Regions from separate parts of the Homo sapiens genome. Here region 2 is linked to region 1. The links come from fine-mapping of genetic effects on gene expression. Tissue or cell type: lymphoblastoid cells. Region 1 holds a variant in brackets; the other region holds the start of a gene. All regions are shown on one strand. Distances are from middle to middle.

Region 1 (8,104 bases):
GGAGTTGCCTGGACTGAATTTTCAGGGCCTTCATCAGTTCCTTTTCTGTCCCCTGGAAAACAAACTGGGCCTCTCTTCCTCTCTCTCCCTCTCTTTCTCTCTCTCTCCCTCTCTCGTTTTCTCACTCTGGCTCACACACACACACCTTTTCTTGATTAGATCGTTACATTCAATCCTAGGTAGGTGTGCCTCTAATTTCGGGTCCCCAAGCATACACACCCCAGACCTCAGGGGACTTTGGCTTCCTGAGGTCAGGTCGGAGCACAAACAGATCTGAAACGCCGTTAGTCACATCATGGAAGGGAGTGAGTTGGGTGCTTCAGGTAGATCCAGAGTACACCTTGGCTCTCACTCGTTATTATTTCTTAACAGTGTGAAACCCCCAGGACATCCCGACAGCGTCTGTCCTGGGTGGGCCAATGTGAGCAGAGAGCACGGGCTTTGAGGCTGGAGCCCCTGCATTTGTATTCTGGCTCCACCGCCTACCCTGTCACCGTGAGAAAGCGGTTTGACTTCTCTCAATCTCCTTTTCCCCTAGGTAGGAAAGGGACAGTAATGGTCCTTAGTAGGACTGAATGAGATACTGTGTAGGCCCAGCACGGTGCCTGAGCAGATGAAAAACTCAATAACTCATAGTCATTCTTACTTTTAACAGCACTTCCATTATCATTGTTATCCTCCAGGTCAGGAGCCACGCTGGGCCTGCGGTGAATTTTCTTAGAGTAGATTTTTAAGGGAGCCGGTCCCCAGCTCTTTCCAGAATCCCCAGAAGCTATTAAGGTTGTCTGTGTACATCCAGTTTGCCATGTTTAGTTAAACTTTGAGGGACTCACGCCCCAGTGCAGCCCACGGGGTTTTTGCAGAGCTGATGACTAATATTTTGTAGAGAGTCTGATGACTCCAATACACCTGCCTTATGTCCCTGGGTCTGAAACAGCTTTCTTAATAGACTGAGAGATTCACTACAAGGACTCTCCTTTGTCAACATTTTACCAGCCCTGATGAAGGATTAAAAATTATGTTAACCAGCAGTTCTGACTTGGCTTCTGTCAGTCACAGCTTCGCATGGCTGCACTTGCTTCTCTCTTCCTCTTCCTCTTCCTGTCCCCTCTTTGCTGATCTGGACTCAGCCTGGTATTCTTGTCACAAGGTCATCGCCTAGGTGAGCTCAGCTCAGCGTGAAACAAAACAGCTCATCTGAAGGCACCACACAGTCCGTACTGGGAGGAGGGGACCCTCCTCAATCCCCTGCCTTCTCACAAGTGGGCTCTTTTGGTTCCATCTTGCAAAAGCTGGGCAGAAAGAATTTTAATCTGAGCTCTCGGAGCCCTTGGACACAGGGACAGCATGAACTGCCCCTAATTCCTTGGGTGCTGGGTGGTCTGCAATCACTCCCTCATAGCACTGTCTGAGGGCTGACCACTCAGCTTGCAAAGATATCTAGGCACAATTTGTTTTCAAAAGGCTTGCATGTTTGTTATTTTTTGAACTTTGGCTTTAGATCAGTTTGGGTGTTCTCCAGAGAACAGCCACTCTGCTTCGGCATTGAAGCGTTCTCTCACTCACGCTCTCCTCCCTACTCCCAAGTGTCTTGAATCACTGCTGCATTGCAGGTTCATGCATCTGGACTGTTTTCATGTTCTTGGGGCATGGCGTCTATTTTATAAACACACGGTCAGTTTACACTGCCTGGGAACTTAGGGGATTTCCTCTCTGTGGGAAACAGCTGTGAGGAGCTTGACCAAACTTGGCTTTGTGGAGAGTAAGACGTCGCCTCTGATCATCCACGTGGGGCAGCTGCACTGGCTGTGTTCCTGTTGTTATGCCTGAGGATTCTCCTAGAAATCTAAGCTAAGAAGGGAAGCTCATTATGCTCTCCTCCCTGGTTTCCAGTTTAGTTGTTCATGAGTGATTTTGCATATCATAAAACCCCATGTCTGTTCACCTTCACGCCGTCTGCCAGCAGCACCTTAAGCCATCTGACTGCTGTGGGACCTCTGAGGCCACAGAATTATGGCATCATGAAGCTGGAAGGGACTTTAAGAGAGCCATTCGCCCAACACATTAGATGAGCACTTATTATGTGCAAAGTGCTGTGCTAGATGCCATGGGTGAAGGAAGGTGAGAAAGACCCAGCCTCTGTCCTCAAAGAACTGACAGACTTTAGGCTTGGCCATCATCATCACAAAGCATTCTGTGACCTTCTTCTTCAGGTGGGCTCAAGGTGTCCTCCTTAGTTCATGCCCCCTGCTGAGCACTATCACAGCACCTCCTATGCTGCAGTGAAGTGATCCTCATGTCTGTCTTCCGCATAGAATGTGAGCTTCCAGAGGGCGGGACCAACGATGCTGGGTGACATGGAGATTCTGCAGCGCCTATCATAAGGTTTTCATAAAGGGGAAATAAGATTAAGAGTAGAAACACTCTATTTACTAGCTACTTAGGCTAACCACCAAAACCAGAGGAGGTTGGTAGCTCCCTGAAGCAGAAAGAACTAGAGAAGCCAAAGGGATACCACCAACCTTGAGAGTCCATGAAGAAGCTGGGAAAACCGGAAGCATCTAAGCCACCGTTCTCTTGGCCCTTCTGCAAACCCTCTCTGCCACGTCTGCAGGAGTTTGTTTTAGTTCACTAGGGCTGCCAAAACAAAGTACTGACTGGATGGCTTAAAGAACAGAAATTTACTTCCTCACCATTGTGGAGACTGCAAGTCCAAGGTCAAGGTGTCAGCGGGGTTGTTTCTTCTGGGAGCTCCTCTCCTTGGCTTCCAGATGGCCGCCTTCTCTCTTTGTCTTCATATGGTCTTCCCTCTATACCTATCTGTGTCCTAATCTCTTCTCATAAGGACACCAGTCATATTGGATTAGGGCCTACTCATATGACCTCATTTTACCTAAATAACCTCCTTAAAGACCTTATCTCCAAATAGAGTCATATCCTGAGGTACTGGGGATTAGGAAGTCAACCTATAAACTTGGAGGAGAAGAAGGAGGCTGCACAATTCAGCCCATGACAGAAGTTAACACTGATGCTCAGAGAAGTGCCAGTGAGTCCCTGATAAAAGCTACAGCCAATCAGTTCAGGAACCAAGAATTAGGCCTGTAACTGCCTTCCTTCTTGGCTGACTGACAACCCTAGAGATACAAAGCTTCATCCAGCACTGGTAACCGAACTTAACTCTATTTTGCCACCACCACTTCCTGTACGTGCCCCTCGCCCCTTGGCCTCCCCACAGCACTGGTGCTACCTGAGGTGTCTGTATTTGAGCCAAAGGCAAGAGAAGGTGTCAATACGGAAGAGAGAAAGAAACATGTCTCCCTTGGGACTAGGGTGGGAAATGACAAGGATGGAGGCAACTTCCAAGGAGAACCACTGGCTCGCTTCCCAAGCTCATAAGCAGAACATAGAAAAAAGGTCCAAATGCCCTGGCTAGATGGAAGAGAGCCAAGCCACCAGCAAGTACCAGCAGCGGGTCTCTGACTGCCAGCCAAGGCCATGGCGCTGCCAGACAGGAACTGACATGGAGCAGAGAGAGAG[G/T]CCTGGCAGCGGGATGGCTTCACCCTCCACACAGCTTTTGCTGTTGGCTTCTGCAGGGTCATGAGTCCTCAGCAGCCTCAGTTCCCAGAGTCACTCTTCACTATTGGGTGCCAGTTGGCTAAGTGCCATATTGGAAAAAGAGTACGGGATGTGAGCTTCTAGATGAACCAACCCATTATAATCAGACTTGGCTTAGTTTGGCCACACATTGCCAAGACAGGAGGGAGGTGTTGCTGACTCAGCACCAGGCACCCAAGGACAGGCAGGTCCAGAAGTGGCTTGAGGTAAAGGAATCTACAATGGACAACTGTAGTGTCCTAGAGATGCCTAGGGTCCAGCCATTAAGCTGTAGTCCAGTTCTCTCGGCAAAGGAAAGTTCACAGTCTATCTTCTCAGCTGCCCCTGAATCCAAGTCTCAAGGTGCAAAGTCCTGGAGGACTTGCAGACACCAGCTGCTGGCTTGTCCAGGAGATATTAAAGTTTCCTTTAAAATCATCCCAGCAGTCCAGATGACCTGCTCTTCAACCTCATCCTGAAATTGCATCCACAGCAGGGTAGACCAATCTGAGCAGCCAGCTCTGGAAGTGAAACTGAGGAGATCATAGCCAACAATCCTCCTTGGACCAGGTGGCATTCTGGGCTTTGCCTGGAGAAAGCCACATTTTTTACACAAAGACCAAAAGACCAAGGATCAGGAGGAAGAAGGCAGTGGGCATGGTAGGGTGTGGACTCTGCCTTAGCAGAGACTCTGGGGGAGATAAAACAGGGGGAGATGAGACCATGATCATCTCACAAGAGTTAAGCCTCAAAAGTCACAGGAGCTGTATGTAGAGCTACTTTGCCCACCTGTGGTTCTCCCCTGTAATGGGTAAGAACAAGAAACAGCATTCAACAGTTTGAGACACAGTTTGTCTAGTAGAATGCCAGAGGGATTGCAGTAGCAACCTGGTGACCCCGTTCATTCATGCATTCATTCAACACATTTTTATTGAGCACCTAATTTGTGCCAAGCATTATGCTGAGTGGTTGACAGGATAAAAAAATAAACTAACAGGCCTTACCCTCATGAAGCTTACATTCTAGCAGAGAAAAATGAATCAATTATACAATTCAAAACACTAATAATTGTAATAAGTGCTACCAAGGACTTTGAGAGTACATGATGGAACACAATCTTGGAGGTCCCAGAAGGCTCCTTTGGGAAAGGGACACCTAGGCTAGTCCCTAAAAGGTGAGAGTAAATTACCTAGAAAAAAGGATGGGATAGGGATGGGAAAGAACATGCCAGGAAAAAGGAGTAACTTATGCAAAGGCCTTAAGGCTGGAGAGAGCGTGACAGAATCAAGGAACCAAGGTCCCAAGTGGCTGGAGTCCAGAGATTGGTGTGCAATGGATCTCAAGAGCCTAGCTCTCAGAGAGGGCACCTCATATAGGGCCTCGTAGACTATCTAAAGGGTTTTTATCTCTAAGAGCAGCCAGAGCCATAGAAGGGCTTGGGGGAGGATGAGATGGCATAATTAGCTATGCTGACCTGAGCATTCAGCCCTCCCCTTTACCTAATGTTGCCTCCATACAAAGGAGGAGACCTGGCTTTGTGTCTGAGTTCATCATGATCTGAAAAACTCCAAACTGGATAATTCATGAGAGCTACTTTGCTTCTAGCAAGCACAGCTAGTCAACCGATTTGCAAAGACAAAATTTAGGTTTGCACGTGTGTTTCCCGAAGGGCAGGATGTCCCTGTGGGCTCCCATCTGGCTACCAATTAACTGATGTCTGCACCTTAGAGGCATAGACCTGCCCAGCTTGCAGGAAAGAGAAAATGGGGCTAACTTCCCCAGCAACACTATAAACTAAGGCTTACAAAAAGTAGAAGGCGGCTGGGCGTGGTGGCTCACACCTGTAATCCCAGCACTTTGGGAGGCTGAGGCAGGTAGATCACAAGGTCAGGAGTTCAAGACCAGCCTGGTCAAGAGGGTGAAACCCCATCTCTACTAAAAATACAAAAATTAGCCAGGCATGGTGACAGGGGCCTGCAATCCCAGCTACTCAGGAGGCTGAGGCAAGAGAATCGCTTGAACCAGGGCAGCAGAGGTTGCAGTGAGCCAAGATCATGCCACTGCACTCCAGCCTGGGCAACAGAGTGAGACTCCATCAGACAAAAAAAAAGGCAGAAGGCATGGCAGGTCACAGCAATTTTTCGTGATACCATTGAGACCAAGCTCACGGGAATCAAAAGGGCCCAGAAGTTGCTGGAGAGCAAGTCAACCTCTCCCTATCTCTGAAACTCAGGAAAACAGTCCCTTCTCTATGCACCAAGAGAGAATCTCTAATCTATCATTCCAATAGGATTCTCCTAAACTGCTTCAAGCCAGTCTGTTTTTTTATCCCAAAACAAAAGGATGCAGGGGAGGGTCTTCTGGTCTCAGCGACCTTCACAAGGGAGCCCCAGCAAATCGTTCCTCCAGCTCTGAGCCAACCGTGCACCAAGCTCAATCTCAACCTAAATATTCAAGGCACAAAAATTGATCATAGAGGTCCCCAGTAAGGGCAGAGTGGTTCTGAAAAAGACCACACTGACACACTTCTGCTGGACTTCCTCTCATGCTCATGAGAAATGGCTGCTGTACGTGGCCTCTGAGACCACCCAGGTGCCCTCCTGCTGGACACTCAAGATGGACATTCACAGTGCTCACCCCACCCTGCCACCCCAAGAGTCCTGGAAATGCATGTGCACACAGGCCTTCATCGCCCTAATGCTCACATGGCCACCAAGCGCAGGCTGGAATAGAAGGATGTGTCCTTTGACCTTTTTGTCCTCTCTTCCCAGACCGAGCCTGGGCATCAAGTGCACAGGAAGACAGTTAACCTGAATCACCACGTGGAAACACTCCTATATAGAACCTTTGTGCCTCAGGTGCAGAGGATCAGCCAGGGACAGGACAGGGTGACTCCCGAGGCCAGAAACAGGACAAGGTCCCTCCCCTGCTCAATAAGAATGGACACGAGACACCCATAGGACACACTCAGGAACTCCAAGTTCTGTCTTGGCCTCCCCCATCCCCAGCTGGCAGCCAATCCCCAAAAGCAGCTGTGGGTGGAGAGGGAGGGCAGTTTTGGATTCTATAGACTATAAAGCAGGTGCTGTGGCAGCTTTGGTCTTAGTAAGGCTGCACACCTCTCTGTTTTCCCCCACCTTAGTGAGACTCCCTGTGTCAGGACATTGGTGCATTTTCTCCCCCATGCACTGGACACAGTGCATTTCCATTTCTTTTCCAGGTGGGGACCCTGTAGCCAGTGACTCCTGACCTGGCTGCTCCTCAGCAGACACCTCAGGTTCCTCCTGCAGAAGAGACCCCTGTTGGCCACTCCTAAGCCTTCCTCAGGTGCCTAGATAGCCCCTCCACCCCGAGTCAGCAAGAAGGGCCACCGCAGTGACAGAGCTCCCCCTACTGAGAGCTCGCTGTGGTGGCGGGCCCGGGAGACCGAATGAGGCACTCTCTCCCCTAGAAATTAGATTCTGGGAACATCTTCCAACTCTCCCCCAATCCACTGCTCCCAAATAAGGGCAGCATTATCTGGAAGATCCTAAGAATCAAATCCTTTTACATCAGTGCCATATCTCCATTGTCAAAACTTGAAATAACTCCCAGGACAGGCCCTTAGCCCAGCCTGGGCCAGACTAATGGCATGTGTTCCAAGGTCCCCACTGCACCGATCTCAAAGCATCATGTGCACCAAACCATTCAGTTAAGCATTCCTACTAACTACCTCCCAGAGAGCTGGCCTACCCCTCCCCAAAGGAATTCTTAGACACCTTGCCCACCCTTACACCACAGGCAGCTGAGCCCAAGCTGACAACTTCCAAAGGACCTGTCGATATCAATGACAATAAATAATAATATAACATGCTTGGTTCTCAAAGTATATGACATTCATTTAATACACAAAAACAATGCCACCACCCTCAAAAAATAGATATCACCATCAGATGAGGAAATTAAGGCATAGAAAGATGAGAGACATGCCAGGATGAAAACTCAGCTCCTTACACATAAAGACCACTTTCTGGAGGAGCTGTGAGCTGAGGACTGTTAAGACGAAAGGACATTGGAACCAGGAAATCTCCGAGGCCTGAGCTCCTTTCAGGGCCCTGCCAGAAGAGGAGGCCGAGAAAGCCAGACCTCTCCCTCCCCAGGTGCTAAGTCACCACAGAGACCCTCCCCAGGTCACCACAGCCTTAGAACCACCACCACCAGTGGTGACAGAAGCCTCATGGAGGAGCAAAATAGGTGAAGGGAAATGAGCACAGGCTCAGAGGCTTGACCAGCCTCTCCCATCCTGCCCATCGCAAGAAACATGTTCTTCAGAGAGCTCTTAGCTAGAGAAACACTAAAGGCCCTCACAGGTTCATCTTTAGGGCATCTCCCATCCACAGCCCAAGTCGATACAATCCAGTGCCCCAGGATACTGAGAGTGACACGGATAGATGATGCTCAATTTGGGAAGCAGCAAGGGCAAGGAAAGCAAGGAAACTAGCCTGGGCTCTAGAGCTGGATGACTTACAAA
Region 2 (8,087 bases), 120 kb before region 1:
GCTCCCCATGGAAGCCTCTTAAGGAAAAGTTAAAACTTTGAATATGTCTTATGGGAAGAGACTGACGTAGCACAAATCATTAAAAAACCTTCACCTAATTGTCTTCCTGGTCATTTTCATATGGACCAAATGTTCACTCTAGGGCCCAAAAAACATTTGTTTCCTGCATGTATTCAATCTTCTGGAACTTGATATTTCCCACGAGGTTTGGTAACAGTGTCCCAAAGTCAAGGTGACAAAAGAACTTTGCATTAATAAAGACAATTTCGAGCTGTAGTCAAATTTGGAGGGAATAAACTACCCCTTTTCCTTATACTGAAAGTCTTTTAATATGCCTGTGCCTTAGTTGAATAAAATCTCCTACGTGGGGGGGAGAAAACAATGCTCTGCAGTGTCATTTGCATACAAGACTGCCAAAATTTTTCAGTCAAAATATTCGTTTAAAACTTTAAAAAGAAATCTATTCCATTTCCATCACTTTGGGTATGGACTGGGTATAAGAAGGTTAAGGTCAAATACAGGATTTCTGAGGTCAATGGCAAGGATAGCCAGAGATCTGAAAAACAGTGATATATGAAGAACTAAAGAAACTGGATGAGGAGTCTCAAAAGGAGAAGGCTTGGGGTGAAGATGGGATGGGCATAACTTCTTCAGAGTTAGTACTGGACCTGGTCAGAGTAGCTAATCAGTATATGATTGTTGAATGAATGAATAAACCAATTAATGAACTAAACAAACTCACAATAGAAAAGCAGTAGTACAGAAGTAGGAGAAGAGAGTAATTGATAGCAGAAATCAAGGTTTACTTATTTTTGTACTCCTGGTACTTGATACCATGCCTAGTGCATAGTTGGTGCCCAATTAATACATGATTGGATTATAGCATAATCACTGATCACTACATTTAAAGCAGTCCAATAGTGGAACAGGCTGCCTCACAAATAGTGAGCTCTCGTTTCCTCTACACAGATTCTACTATGGGCCAGGATCTCAGCCAAGCAGTGGAGCCAGAGGCTGGACAGACACAAGCAGAGATTTTGGAAAAAGACTGAGTCCCTCTCAGCACTTCAAAGATCCCTTCCAACACCCAAACATCAAAAGCCATGTTATATTGCCAAGCAAGGGTGCCTATGAACGCCTGTTGAAACCCCACAACAATTTTTTCAGCCATTTATTAAAACCCCAAAGAGACTATCAGGACTTCAGGGCAAACATCCTAGAGATAGCAATGCCCCCAGCAAGAAGAAAAGAGTTCTCAGTCTGAGAGGCACAAACTGTAATCAGTGTAATTAACAGCTTACCCTCACCTCTAGCCAGGCGTTTCTTCAAGATTCTAGTGTTTCCAGTCCTTACAGAACATTCTCAAGTCAGCAGGCTACACTGTCTTAGTGTCCTTGTACAAACTGATGGTAAAACAGATAGCACCCCAAAATATTTCCACATGCACAAACAACCTTGAAACGTGTGTTCGCATATCTTACAAGCAGGTATTTTTCCAATGCCACTCACAGCCTATTAGTGGGTCATTAAATTAACTCAGTGACTCCCAACCAACATATATTTCCCATAAATAGAATGAAATGGAAAAGGTGGACTAGAATAGAAAATATCAGAGTGCCTGACATATGTAGGTATATCTTGTTTCATGAAAAGTTTGTTTTAGAAATATAAATGTTGTTATAGATACATGTGAACATGTAAAATGGATTTCTTATTGTAGGTTAAAGTCCAAAAAGTTTAAAAGCTTCTTGTAGAAAAGATCAGGAAGACAACATCAGTAGTTAAGAGCAAAGGCCGGGCATGGTGGCTCATGCCTATAATCCCAGTACTTTGGGAGGCCGAGGCAGGCAGATCACAAGGTCAAGAGATTGAGACCATCCTGGCCAACACGGTGAAACCTCCTCTCTACTAAAAACACAAAAATTAGCTGGGCGTGGTGGTGCATGCCTGTAGTCCCAGCTACTCAGGAGGCTAAGGCAGGGGAATCACTTGAACCCAGGAGGCAGAGATTGCAGTGAGCTGAGATCATGCCACTGCACTCCAGCCCGGTGACAGAGTAAGATTCCATCTCAAAAAAAAAAAAAGCCAGGGCTTTGGAGTTAGGCCTAACAAAGTCTGAATCCTAATTCTGCTACTGATATACTCAGTGATCTTGGCATGCCACTTATTCCTCTGAGCCTGTTTCCTCACCTGTGGAATGTGAATGCTATACAATATAGCACCTGATGTCCAGTAAACAATAATGAGTCTCCTATGAAGTCTTCTCTGAGTCTCCTATGAAGAACAGCCAATGCTGTGGGTACCTGGGGTCTCAGGGTTGCTCTGGGCCTGATCATCCACTCAGATCTGTAAGGAGGATTTGCAGGATCCATTTAGAAAGATCCTCCCTTACTTCCACAAGCATGGCCTTTGGCTCTTAAATACCTGTGCTGGGGTTTTGTAATTATAGAAACAACAGGAACCAAAACTCATTAATGTTGAGCTACAAACCAGAGGGAAGCTTCTTTCTCAAAACAGGGCTCAGGCCTAGAAAAATCTAGTTTTCTGAAATCGCTAGCCAGCAACAGCACTGAGATGGCCATCCCAGAAACAAGGCCAACACAGAAGCACCCATAAAGGCTGCTGGAGGTTGGGACAAAGAGATCCTTGCTGTCCTTACAGACCCCCTGACTTCCAAGGAGCTCCCCTCTCACCCAGCCTGGCCTGCCTTCTCCACAGGGTAGCTGATCGTCAGCATCATCTTCAATGGTGTTGTCAAGAGCACTCAGTGCTCCTGCCATCCCTGTCCATCTCCACATGAAAGGAGAGGTTAGCACTCCAGCCTGGGCGACTGAGCAAGACTCCATCTCAAAAAAAAAAAAAAAAAAAATAGAAAGGAGAGGTTAGGAAGGAGATGAAGCCTGAAAGCACTGGGAGGACACCCCAGCATAGGGGAACACAGAGACACGTGAAGCCAGGGAGAAAACCAGTAGTACAGATAAGAAATGGAAGAAAGCAATGACAGGAAGAGAGACAAAGAAACACAGAAAGAAATAAACAAAAATGCAACAAAGAAGGTTTTTAAAAGCAAATCAAAAAATAAGAGTATAACAAAAAGGAGGAGAGCAGCGAAGAAAAGAAGTAATGGAAGACGCTATGAGGACAAGAGACCATCCCTAGATTCCAAGCTGCTTGGTTCACTGTTCCTTCAGAGGGGGCAAGGCCTAGGCACAGCGAGGAAGAAGGCATGCAGGGAGGGGAGGTGCCATCTCCACCCCCATTGTCCTTCCCCTCCTCAGGTCTGGTCCATCAGGGAAACCTAGGACACAGGCTCAGGGGCATTTGTAGAAAGAAGTTCCAGAAGCTGTCAGATTTCAATACATCCATCCTGCCCTCCACTGCCAGGTGCCACCTCAGGTGTTCCCAGGCCTGCTCCTCTCCCCCAGAGATGTGGCTTCAGCTGCCAAGCAATTCCTATCAGTCTTGTCATTCTCAGTTGCCCTTTCCCTAAGCTCTGTGTGTTTCCCTCTGTATTTGACACATTTGGGGGCACCCCAATCTTTTTCTTGAGGCCTCTGGGGCTAAACTACACTTTTTGCATTTCTGAGAACTCAGAGAATAAACAGCAGAGGCCTAAAACCATGGACTGGTCTTGAATCCTGGAAATATCTTGGTTATTTGCAAAAGGAACCTCACCATGCCTCTCTCTTCTCTTGCTGTCCCCTTCTGTGGAGGGGGCGGGTGGCTATGAGAGGACTTGGCCTGGCACTCTCTCCCTCTGTGGACCATTCCTGTCTCCTCACCTTCCAAATCACATGGAAGAGGCACAGTAAGTACTCACAGAAGATGACCCAGTAGAATCCCAAGTCATTAGTGAGGGGCTTGGGCCTGGACCAAGGGGGAAGCCTGATCCCAAGTCCCTCCCCCTTCTCACCCCAATGGGAGAAGGCTTGAACCTAAGTCCACATCCTTTCAGTTAAAATGAGCAGGAGCCAAACTTGTCATTGTTTCCTAACATGTGCTCCTACAGCAAAAAGGCAGGGGTGGCTCTAGAAGGCGAAAAAGCAAAGAGGGCACTTCGCAGTGCGGTGGTGAAACCCAGAGTCAGAAAGTCTCCAGAGGATGAGGCTCCTGGCATCCCCAGCTCTGTGGGGAGGAGGAAAGGGTCTTAATGGGCAGTCATTCTGAGCAGAAACCCCAGTGTCGGGCCCAGGAAGAGCGGGATGAAAGGGGGAGGGAAGCCCGCTGGTAGCCAGGCGGAGCCAGAAAAATAGGAGGTGCAGAGCGAAGGCCTCTGCTAGGCCGCTGGCCTGCCACCTGGGCCCAGAGCGACTTCTTGCTGTGCCACACCCACTAGCTGCCATGTTCATTCCTCAAAACCTGAGATTTCCCCTCAAAACACAGATGGGGGATGCGGGAATCAGTCTGGCCAGCCAGTCTGGCTCCGGTGTTCATGGCCAGGGCAGCCTAAGTCACTCATGGCTTCTTAGCTGCCCTGAAGGCTGAAATACAGAGCATCTTTGAGGACATCTGCTCTATCTGTGGGAAGGAGGACAAAATGCTCAAACTATAATAAAAGCAAGGGCCAGGACCCAAAGGGGTCTCACTCCCTGTTTCTCTGGACTCTCTGTGGGGTGCCTGTGTGCAGGATTTCTGCAGAAGATAGTCCATTTTGTTAAGCCTTTGAATATTCAAATTGAAAGTATCGCGCAATCATTGATTGTCAAATCATGGGTTTCTAGAGGTTTTAAATACTTGGCATGAGGGGGAAAAAACTCAAACCTATACCCGAAGGTATAAAACATTAATTCTGTTTGTCTCCTGTTCCAGGGACCTGGGTGCAGCCGGATGCTTTGTGAAATTTTAAAAATGTTGCATCTCTGCTTCTCTCCCTGCCCCAGGAGCCCTCCCAGGCGCTGAGTCCCTGCTGCTGCAGCATCCAGCCACCGACCCAGCTCCTGCTGACCACGATGTCGGGTAACTCGGCTGCTTCTCCTAGGGTCGGGTCAGGCGGGCCAGGGGCATTTCAATCCGGGTGTGTTTCCACGGCTTTTCCTGCATAGAACAGAGAGGCACAAAGTCAAGGCATGCGAGTAAGGGCCGGGGATCCGGAGAGGACGCGAGCCACGCTGTGGCCGCTCCCACTCAGCGCCTGTCCCGGAGGGCAGAGGCCCAGAGGCCGAGTTGGCCGCTCCGGACGTCCGCGTACCCCAGGCCCCCGCCCGCCCTCCCACGTATCCACTGTTGTGTCCTGAGACACGCGGTGCGGACCCTGCGCGCCCAGAAGCTGCTACGGGGGGAGCTAGAGGCTCACAGTGAGCCTGGGACGGGGGCAGAGCGCACCGACTGCACTGAGCCGAGCTGTGGCGGTCCCTGCGCGGACCCCGAGGGGCGCCCGCTGCCCGCGGAGTCCGGAGCCGATCGGGGAACGGGGTGGTGGGGCTGCGGTAGGCTGGAGCGCGGAGAGGGCGCGGCGCCTGGGCCCTGCGGGCGGGGCACGGGATTCCCTGGGTCCGGGCTAGGAAGAGCGCAATCTCCTTTCCTGGGGAGACCCTAACTCCTGGAACCCGGCTTGAGGGGGATCCCTGCTGTCCAGCTGCGGTCCCCGCAGTGACCAGGCGAGGCGCTGGCATCCTGGCACTATCTCCAGGCGTCCAGGCTGAACGCGCGGTCACCCTCGGCCGCCGCACCCAGCGCACTTCCCGGCGCGATTCCTGGACGCACACTGCAGGGTAGTGGTCAGGGCCGGAGCCGCCCCGGACTCCTGCGGCCACCTCCACCTTGAAAGCTCGCCCGGCTCGGCTTGGCCTAACAGCCAGTCCCCAACCTACTCACTGCGGCTTTTCGGGGCCCGGGGCTGAGGCTGCCCCTGCTCCCAGCGCTCAGGGGTCCCTCCCAGCGAACCCCTCTTGAGCGCGCCCGCCACCTCCCGCGAGCCGGGGCAGTCCGACCGGGCCCCGCCAGCCCCGGGGCGGCCCCTACCGAAGGGCGGCCTCCCGGCGGAGTGCAGGGTCATCGGGAGCCCCGGACGGCTTTCCCCAGCTCGCGCTGCGCGGACTCGCCCCGGAGCCTCAGTGCGCCTCGGAGAAACGCCTGCCCCAGAAAGGGAGGGGGTAGGGAGAGAGGGGAAGAAGGGGAGAGTAGGAGCGGGGGCGAAGGAGGGAGGAGGGCAAGATGGAGCGCGGAAAAGGCGGAGAAAAGGGACGAGGGAGAGCGGGCAGAAGGCAAAGACAGAAGGGAGCGAGGGAGGGAGTTCCTCGGGCCTGGCCCCTTTACTAGGTCAGTCTGGCAGGTACCTCGCCGGCCCAGGACGGGGCTGGCCAAACCTCACCGCTTGCTCCCGGGCTGGCTTCCAGACCAAGGGCACGCAGAGGTCGGAGCCTGCCCAGAAGCCACACCTGGCCAGGCGGAGAAGGAAGGGACTCGGGACTTCCATGCTAGTGGGAACATCACAGTGGGGTGGGCTACGTCAGCCGCCATAATCAGAGAAAGCCCCCTGCCCCAGGCCTGGCCCCTCCCCAGGTCCATAATACCCTCTCTCTCGGCTGTCTGGGTCTGAAAGCCAAGGTTCCCCCGACCTAATCAGAGTGGTGGGCTCCGCTGCACTGGTCTCCATATTCCAGAGCAGAAAAACCCGTTTGCTATTGGCCTAGGACTGAGGCCCAGCCAGGGGTGGATGGCCCCACAAATTTCCACGGATTCTTTTCCTACTGGGGCTCTGAAACCTGCTCAGCTACTCTTCATTCTTTCAAGTTTGAAATGTTTGGGTTTTTACCATCCTTTGACATTTTTTGTGTGTGTTCTCCGAACTTAGAAACTTGGCTTTGGGTGCCATAGCCTATAAAAGGGGCCCCCACTCTGCACCCTGGCACCCAGACCTTGGACTCGACCACTGACTCAGTTGCCTTTCTCCAGAAAAACCGAAGGTGTATCAAGGTGTCCGAGTGAAGATCACAGTGAAGGAGCTGCTGCAGCAAAGACGGGCACACCAGGCGGCCTCCGGGGGAACCGTAAGCATAAGCCCTTCCCTCATTCCCCAGCCCATGCCAGGCCTCTTTCAAAGCTGTGTCTGCAAGGTGTGGAGGCCACTCAAGGCCCCACGCACTCACCATTCCCAGACCTGGCCTTCCTCTGCTGTTCCTATGACTTCTGTACCCAGCTGCATCCCAATCGGGAAGCTACAGAGGACAGCTGGGGCATGTTGTGGGGCTCAGGATTTGGGGGAGCCCATCCATCCCCCATGGGTGAAAGTAAAGTATAAAAAGTGCGTTGGTCCTCTGCAGGGGGAGGAGCGGCCAGCAGGTAAGTATACATCGTTTTGTTAGGAAGACAGTGGATATATGTACAGCCCTTGCAGACCCATAGAAAATCTCTCCCAGAAATTCACCTCATTTTAGGGGCCCCTTCCAGGATAGCATCTGTGTGGAACATCCTCCCTTCCCTCCTCATTCTTCTGGAACTCACCCTCTGAGATCATTTATCTGTAAATCATCAGTTACCTAAAGTATCTAGCAGAAAAGGGCCCTGTCTCTGCAGAAGAGACAGCTGGAGTACAGGACCACTTCCCTAAAATGTATCAACACCTTAAGCAGTTTCAGGTTATTACAAAATTGAACTGAGCAGTCATAAGGGTATACCCTGACACTTTATACACCTTCCTACGGTAAGTACTGCCAAAGGCACTCAGGGCAGCAACAGAACCAAATAAACTAGGTGGGGTTATTGCCCAAGAGAGGGCAGCTCATCCCTAAAAAGCCTCAATCATACAATTGCTTGGGGGTTGGTTTGGGTGTGAACATAGGATCTGACAGCTGGGGCTCATATTGCCTCTGTTAGGATTGGTCCTTCTCCAGCCCATTGGCATCTGCCCCACAACAGTTTTTGTGCCTGATGCTGTTCATGTGCAATGTGTGACTTCATGAAATAGGCCTTTGACAGCGGGACTTCTTGAAATGGGAGGGGGCAAATGATGTAGGGGAGGTAAACACAGGTTCCAGAACCAGATGGACTGGGCTCAGATCTCAGTTCCTCCATGGTGTGTATCCTCAAGCAAATTACCCAATTCCTCTTGCCTCTGTTTATTCGTCTTCAAATTGGGGATGATAGGA

Alleles and levels. Alleles are on the strand shown, and positions count from the first base shown. SD is a standard deviation of normalised expression in the study named.
For the expression in lymphoblastoid cells of the gene that starts at base 4,914 in region 2, allele T in region 1 goes with a higher level than allele G (moderate effect, 0.73 SD a copy in CAP).

Evidence for each region. PIP is the estimated chance that this variant, and not a neighbour inherited with it, causes the effect.
Region 2: it holds the start of POU2AF3, and the variant in region 1 is fine-mapped to the expression of POU2AF3 in lymphoblastoid cells (CAP, PIP 0.95).

Annotation. Positions count from the first base shown.
Region 1 is chr11:111,416,220-111,424,323 of GRCh38, forward strand. It overlaps LOC100132078 (a long non-coding RNA gene), which reads right to left and starts at 1,967. Exons shown (of 4, transcript NR_046085.1): 1 at 146-1,967. It also overlaps a transcript of BTG4 not described here. RefSeq lists a silencer at 323-372 and enhancers at 593-662, 1,713-1,822. The variant G/T (reference allele first, on the strand shown) is at 3,538.
Region 2 is chr11:111,293,633-111,301,719 of GRCh38, forward strand. It overlaps POU2AF3 (POU class 2 homeobox associating factor 3), which reads left to right and starts at 4,914. Exons shown (of 5, transcript NM_001271458.2): 1 at 4,914-4,956; 2 at 6,895-6,989. The coding sequence starts at 4,950. It overlaps COLCA1 (colorectal cancer associated 1), which reads right to left. Exons shown (of 2, transcript NR_169237.1): 2 at 1-5,034. RefSeq lists a silencer at 5,854-6,053.